Linked DNA regions of Homo sapiens. The protein of the gene in region 2 interacts with the protein of the main gene of each other region in a pairwise test. Each region holds a gene or a part of one and is shown on either strand. Other genes may lie near its edges.

Region 1 (3,732 bases), on a different chromosome or scaffold from region 2:
GTCCCAGGGTTATAGGACCACGTCGTCATGTAGGACCACGTCGTCATCGGGGAGGGTCAGAGTCCCTAGGGTTGTGGGACCATATGGTCCTATATATAAATATATATATATATATATTTTTTTTTTTTGAGACAGAGTCTTGCTCTGTCACCCAGGCTGGAGGGCAGTGGCATAATTTTGGCTCACTGCAACCTCCGCCTCCCGGGTTAAAGAGATTCTCCTGCCTCAGCCTCCCTAGTAGCCGAGATCACAGGTGCGCACCACCACGCCCAGCTAAATTTTTTTATTTTTTAGTAGAGACAGGGTTTCTCCATGTTGGTCAGGCTAGTCTTGAACTCCTAACCTCAAGTGATACACCCGCCTCAGCCTCCCAAAGTGCTGGGATTGTAGGCATGAGCCACCATGCCCGGCCCATATGGCCATATCTGGGTCAGAGGCTGTGACCATGCCACACCCACAACAAGGACCACAGAAAAACCGCTCTTGCCAAGGACCTGATCAGTGCTCTCTCAAGTCTGGACCCTGAAACAGTCTTCCTATCATTTTCCACCAGGACAACTAGCCAGTGTGTCTGCCTTTTTAGAACACGTATATAAGCCGGATGTGGTGGCTCACACGTGTAATCCCAAGCATTTTAGGAGGCCAAAACAAGAGGATTGCTTGAGCCCAGAAATTTGAGACCAGCCTAGGTAGCAAAGCAAGACCCTGTCTCTATAAAACGTGAAAAAATTAGCCAGGCATGGTGGCGCACGCCTGTCATCCCAGCTACGAGGGGGGTTGAGTTGGGAGGATTGCTTGAACCCAGGAGGTTGAGGTTGCAGTGAATCATGATTGCGCCACTGCACTCCAGCCTGGGTGACAGAGCGAAACCATCTCAAAAAAGAATAATAATAAAAAAAAAAAAAAGGCCAGCGTGGTGGCCAGCACTTTGGGAGGCTGAGGTGGGTGGATCACAAGGTCAGGAGTTCAAGACCAGCCTGGCCAACATGGTGAAACCCCATCTCTACTAAAAACACACACACACACACACACACACACACAAAAAAAAAAATCAGCCGGGCGCGGTGGGAGGCGCCTGTAATCCCAGCTACTTGGGAGGCTGAGGCAGGAGAATCGCTTGAACCCGGGGGGCAGAGGTTGCAGCGAGCTAAGATCACGCCACTACACTCCAGCCTGGGCGACAGAGTGAGACTCTGTCTCAAAAAAAATAATAATAAAGTACACAAAAACTTAAAAATAAATAAAACACATGTAGACACCAAGCTTTTTGAACAAACAAGGCACAGTCGCTGGGCCAAGGGCTCAGAGCCTCTCTCTGGATCCTTCCAAACAGGCCACTCAACTCCACGGCTGCAACTCGTCCCTGGGCATGACGACGCCCCCCCACATGCCGGGGCACGTGTGGTGCCCGTTCTCTTCAGCCCCCAGGGGTGCGCCTGGGGCAGGTACCTACGCGCTAGAGACCTGCACGTCATGCCAGCTCCTGGACAGGTTCTGTTTCAGCTCCCCCAGGGTGGAGAGGCCCAGCCTCCTCTTGAGCTCTCCACAGTGCCTCTCCTTGGCTGCCAGGACCTGGCGCAGAGTGACAATTTCCTCTTCCACCTGCAAAGCATGCAGTTGACATGATGAGCCATCACTACTGCAGGAAGTGACTAACATCCTCATGCACAGTGCCATGAGTTACACAAGAACTTTCCGCTTACCAAAGCATTAACTCGTCCTAGGAATAACAGCATCTACAGCAGACATCTGATTTTTGGGTTTTGGTTTTTTTTTTTTTTTGAGATGGAGTTTCGCTCGTCGCCCAGGCTGGAGTGCAATGGCACGACCTCGGCTCACCGCAACCTCTGCCTTTCAGATTCAAGTGATTCTCCTGCCTCAGCCTCCCAAGTAGCTGGGATTACAGGCGTGTGCCACCCTGCCCGGCTAATTTTGTATTTTTAGTAGAGATGGGGTTTCACCATGTTGGTCAGGCTCGTCTCAAACTCCCAACCTCAGGTGATCCTCCCACCTCAGCCTCCCAAAGTGCTGGGATTACAGGCGTGAGCCACCGCGCCCAGCCAGCAGACATTTGTTTTTATCTGGTACTAGGAACTTGACTCCAGGGAACTATCCCATGCCCCACAACTAAATGGTTCTGGGAGAGCTACCAATCACCATGTCCATTTGTGGTCATGAGGAATGGCCCAGGATGACCATGCCAGGTTTGTCCGAGCTCTTTACTAGGACTGGGCATGGTATTAAAAAGGTGAAGACCGGCCGGGCGCAGTGGCGCATGCCTGTAATCCCAGCACTCTGGGAGGCCAAGGCGGGCGGATCACGAGGTCAGGAGATCGAGACCATCCTGGCTAACACAGTTAACACAGCGAAACCCTGTCTCTACTAAAAAATACAAAAAATTAGCCAGGCACGGTGGCGGGCACCTGTAGTCCCAGCTACTCGGGAGGCTGAGGCAGGAGAATGGTGTGAATCCAGGAGGCAGAGCTTGCGGGTGAGCCAAGATTGTGCCACTGCACTCCAGCCTGGGTGACAGAGCGAGACTCCATCTCAAACAAAACAAAACAACAACAACAAAAAAATGGTGAAGACCCTGGCCGGGCACAGTGGCTCACGCCTGTAATCCCAGCACTTTGTGAGGCCAAGGCAGGCAGATTATCTGAGGTCAGGAGTTTGAGACCAGCCTGGCCAACATGACAAAACCCCGTCTCTACTAAAAATACAAAAATTAGCCAGGTATGGTGGTGCACGCCTGTAACCCCAGCTACTCGGGAGGCTGAGGCAGGAAAACTGTTTGAACCCAGGAGACAGAGGTTGCAGTGAGCCGAGATCATGCCACTGCACTCCAGCCTAGGTGACAGACCGAGACTGTTTCAAAAACAAACAAACAAACAAAAAACAGTGAGGATCCTTTTCCCTCAGGGCTCTCAGTCTGGGCTTGGACAATAGAAGCTGGAACTGTTGGCAGCCGGGCACCGTCTGCACTCATAGAATTCCATATGCAGAGAGGAGGAGGCAGATGGACAGTGACACAGGTGACAGAAAAAAACACCCTTAAGAAAACACTTGTGTTCCTGAGGTCAGTTCCAAACCTTGGCAAGAGTCAGTTACACGAACCAAAAGGTAAATTATCTTTTGTGCTTAACGTAGTTAGAACTGAGCAACAGAAAGATTCCTGATCATGAAGACTTGAACTTTCTCAGGTCTTTAAAAAAAAAAAAAAAAAAAAAGAACATGACCTCTGAAAGGGGCATCATTCAAAGCTTTACCACTTTAGAATGAGTTCTCAGTATCTTCAGCTCATATATGACTAGCTTCTCTTTAAAAATTCTCTTTCTTGGCCGGGTACGATAGCTCATGCCTGTAATCCCAGCACTTTGGGAGGCCGAGGCGGGCAGATCACCTGAGGTCAGGAGTCCGAGACCAGCCTGACCAATATGATGAAAGGCCGTCTCTACCAAAAATACAAAAATTAGCCAGGCGTGGTGGCATGCACCTGTAACCCCAGGTACTCGGGAGGCTGAGACAGGAGAATCACTTGAACCTGGGAGGCAGAGGCTGCAGTGAGCCAAGATCGCACCATTCCACTCCAGCCTGGGCAACAAGAGCAAAAAGTCTCAAAAAAAAAAAAAAACTCTTTCTTGCGTGTAATCCCAGCACTATGGGAGGCTGAGGCAGGCAGATTACCTGAGGTCTGGAGTTCGAGACCAACCTGGCCAACGTGGTGAAACTCCG
Region 2 (3,909 bases):
CTTCCAGAGATTACAGAAGGATTTTATTTCATTTACTTAATACATTACATTGATTATGTTCATTTATACATTACATATGTATTATGGACCAGTTGTTAATAACAAAATGTGTACCTTTGCTATAAACCATGGATAGACTAGTGTATAGCAAAATGTCTAAAAGGGATATTATGGCATCTGTTGCTCTTATAAGGTCACTTCCTTTCTTGGTCACCTCTTAGGCAGAGGTGGCCGCTCCCATTCTCTTGCCCCATAACTCACTTGTCATAGAGCCTGCTTATCTGATACATGTTGTATCTCTCAACTGGATACTGGTCAAACCTCTTAAGGACTAGGATCTTGTCCCTTTGTATTGGTATCCCCAGTAGTGGTTTCTAGTATTTTTTTGTTGTTTGTTTTTTTGAGATAAGGTCTTGCTCTGTCACCCAGGCTGGAGTGCAGTGGTGCAATCACAGCTCACTGCAGCCTCAACCTCCTGGGCTCAAGTGATCCTGACTCTCCCACTTCATTCTCCCGAAATAGCTGGAACCACAGATATACACCACCGTGCCCGGCTAAGTTTTGTACTTTTTTGTAGAGATGGAGTTTCACCATGTTGCCCAGGCTGGTCTCCAACTTGTGATCTAATGGCTTGAAGATGACCAAAAAATTTAATATTTGCTATTTCCCAATTTTTATCAACTCTGCTGCTAGTATTTCTCAGTAGACAGGGGCACTGCTAGACTCTTGTTCTCCAGCAGTCTGCAGAGGTATTCAGAAATGATTCTGCCCATAGTCCTAGGCAAATGTCTTGTGGTGTTTGTGGGAAGCCAGAAAGATCCTTGCCTGGAGCCACAGGTGGTGCTGACTCCAGTGCTTACTGCCTCAGGCCTTTGTTCAAGTGTCACCTTATCCATGATGTCAGCCTCTTTAAAACTACAGTCCTGCCCATCCTGATCTTTCTTACTCTGCTTTTTCATGTTTCATACCACATATATCTCCATACTGTTTATTATTATGTTTACCCCTGCTAGATCTGAGTCTGTTAAAATTTAGTAGGGATCTCTGTGTGTTCTGTTCACTGATGTATCTCAAGCACTTAGAACAGGGTTCCTCAACCCCTGGGCTGCAGACTAGTACTGGTCCGTGGCCTGTTAGGAACTGGGCCACACAGCAGAAGGTGAGCAGGCAGGCGAGCATTACTGCCTGAGCTCTGCATCCTGTCAGATCAGCAGCATTCGATTCTCATAGGAGCTAACCCTATTGTGAACTGTGCACGCAGGGGATCTACGCTGTGCGCTCCTTATGAGAATCTAATGCATCACCCCCCGCCCCTGGTCTGTGGAAACATTGTCTTCCATGAAGCTGGTCCCTGGTGCCAGAAAGGTTGGGGACCACTGACCTAGAACAATGCCTTACAGAAGACCTAGACTCAAAGAGCGGTACCTAGGTAGGTAGGAAGTATAGGAAGTCGATCGGTTTTTGGAAACTGTGACTTGAAGCAAAATGATGCACTGTATAACAAAGCCAATTTTACCACAGTTGATACTGTTAAAAGAAAAACTTCGGCTGAATTCAATTTAAAAGAGCTTAATTGAGCAAAGAATGATTCACAAATTGTGCAGCCTGCTGAGCCAAAGCAGGCTCAGAGACTCCAGTGCAGTCACGTGGTGGAAGATAATTTATGGACAGAAAAAAGAAAGTGATGGACAGAAAAAGGAAAAGTGACGTACAGAAAATGGAAGTGAGGAACAGAAACAGCTGGATTGGTTATAGCTCAGCATTTGCCCTTTTTGAACAGGGTTCGAACAGTTGGCCACATTTGATTGGCCAAAAGTCGAGGATTGGCATGAGTGCAGGCTATAGTCTGTTTACACGTCCACTTGTTGTAGTCCACGATGTACAGAGAAACCTTTAGGCCAAATTTAAAATATGTAAGGAGGCAGCTTTAGGCTAAACTTGATTTAACAATATAAACAAGAGTTAACTTCCTATGACATATACTTCAAGTCACAGTTTGAGAACCCACCGAGGACATTGAGGACTTACAGTACTCCCTTAAGGCTTCCCCACCTCTTGTCATTGGCCATCCTGTGTCACTAAACAGAAAGGAGTTGCTAAGTCAAGAATGAAGATCTTACTGAGTTTTCTAGAGCAAAGCTGCTCATCCCTGCTTGCATGTCTTTAGTATTGAGGGTAAAGGCCTTAGTGCCCTGGAAGGTGAACTTTAGAGGTTGTTAAAGGGTCATGGAAAAAAGAGGAGGTGGGGTCTTGGATTGTGGTTGCAGAGCGCTATAAACTGACCGTAACAGATGGTATTCTTTTAAACAGGTATAAAAGTTTGGTCACGGGGACCCGAGCAAGAGGGGTCATTGCTGTCCTCTGGGTCCTTGCCTTTGGCATCGGATTGACTCCATTCCTGGGGTGGAACAGTAAAGACAGTGCCACCAACAACTGCACAGAACCCTGGGATGGAACCACGAATGAAAGCTGCTGCCTTGTGAAGTGTCTCTTTGAGAATGTGGTCCCCATGAGCTACATGGTATATTTCAATTTCTTTGGGTGTGTTCTGCCCCCACTGCTTATAATGCTGGTGATCTACATTAAGATCTTCCTGGTGGCCTGCAGGCAGCTTCAGCGCACTGAGCTGATGGACCACTCGAGGACCACCCTCCAGCGGGAGATCCATGCAGCCAAGTCACTGGCCATGATTGTGGGGATTTTTGCCCTGTGCTGGTTACCTGTGCATGCTGTTAACTGTGTCACTCTTTTCCAGCCAGCTCAGGGTAAAAATAAGCCCAAGTGGGCAATGAATATGGCCATTCTTCTGTCACATGCCAATTCAGTTGTCAATCCCATTGTCTATGCTTACCGGAACCGAGACTTCCGCTACACTTTTCACAAAATTATCTCCAGGTATCTTCTCTGCCAAGCAGATGTCAAGAGTGGGAATGGTCAGGCTGGGGTACAGCCTGCTCTCGGTGTGGGCCTATGATCTAGGCTCTCGCCTCTTCCAGGAGAAGATACAAATCCACAAGAAACAAAGAGGACACGGCTGGTTTTCATTGTGAAAGATAGCTACACCTCACAAGGAAATGGACTGCCTCTCTTGAGCACTTCCCTGGAGCTACCACGTATCTAGCTAATATGTATGTGTCAGTAGTAGGCTCCAAGGATTGACAAATATATTTATGATCTATTCAGCTGCTTTTACTGTGTGGATTATGCCAACAGCTTGAATGGATTCTAACAGACTCTTTTGTTTTTAAAAGTCTGCCTTGTTTATGGTGGAAAATTACTGAAACTATTTTACTGTGAAACAGTGTGAACTATTATAATGCAAATACTTTTTAACTTAGAGGCAATGGAAAAATAAAAGTTGACTGTACTAAAAATGTATACTTGTTGCCAGGAAGGTGACCTCAAAAATTAAAAGTATAATTATTCGGCCGGGCATGGTGGCTCACACCTGTAATTCCAGCACTTTGGGAGGCCAAGGCAGGCGGATCACGAGGTCAGGAGTTCAAAACCAGCCTGTCCAATATAGTGAAACCCCGTCCCTACTAAAAAATACAAAAATTAGCTGGGTATGTGGCATGTGCCAGCTACTCAGGAGACTGAGGCAGGAGAATCATGTGAACTTGGGAGGCGGAGGCTGCAGTGAGCCCAGATGGCATCACTGTACTCCAGCCTGGGTGACAGAGTGAGACTCTGTCTCAGAAAAAAAAAAAAAAAAAAAAAAAAAAAAAAAATATATATATATATATATATATATATATATATATATATATATAAATAAAGTATTCAATCAAGAAACTGCTGTATTAATTTAGGGAAATGATTGATTGATAGTCTCATAAGTCAAATTTTCATCACATAATTTTAAGCTCCATTCTTTTCCATATACAGAAAACTACCCGTGGGGAAGAA

The links. Proteins that work in one complex are often made in the same cells at the same time.
Region 1: the proteins of ADORA2B (region 2) and TPD52L2 interact in a two-hybrid assay, tested with the Homo sapiens proteins (one large-scale study listed by BioGRID and IntAct).

What each region holds. Positions count from the first base shown.
Region 1 is NC_000020.11:63,871,538-63,875,269, reverse strand, and holds part of TPD52L2 (tumor protein D54), read right to left. Parts: intron 1,603-3,732; coding exon 1,454-1,602; intron 1-1,453.
Region 2 is NC_000017.11:15,972,369-15,976,277, forward strand, and holds the end of ADORA2B (adenosine receptor A2b), read left to right. Parts: intron 1-2,310; coding exon 2,311-2,974; 3' UTR 2,975-3,378; downstream 3,379-3,909. UniProt on the Homo sapiens protein: Receptor for adenosine. The activity of this receptor is mediated by G proteins which activate adenylyl cyclase.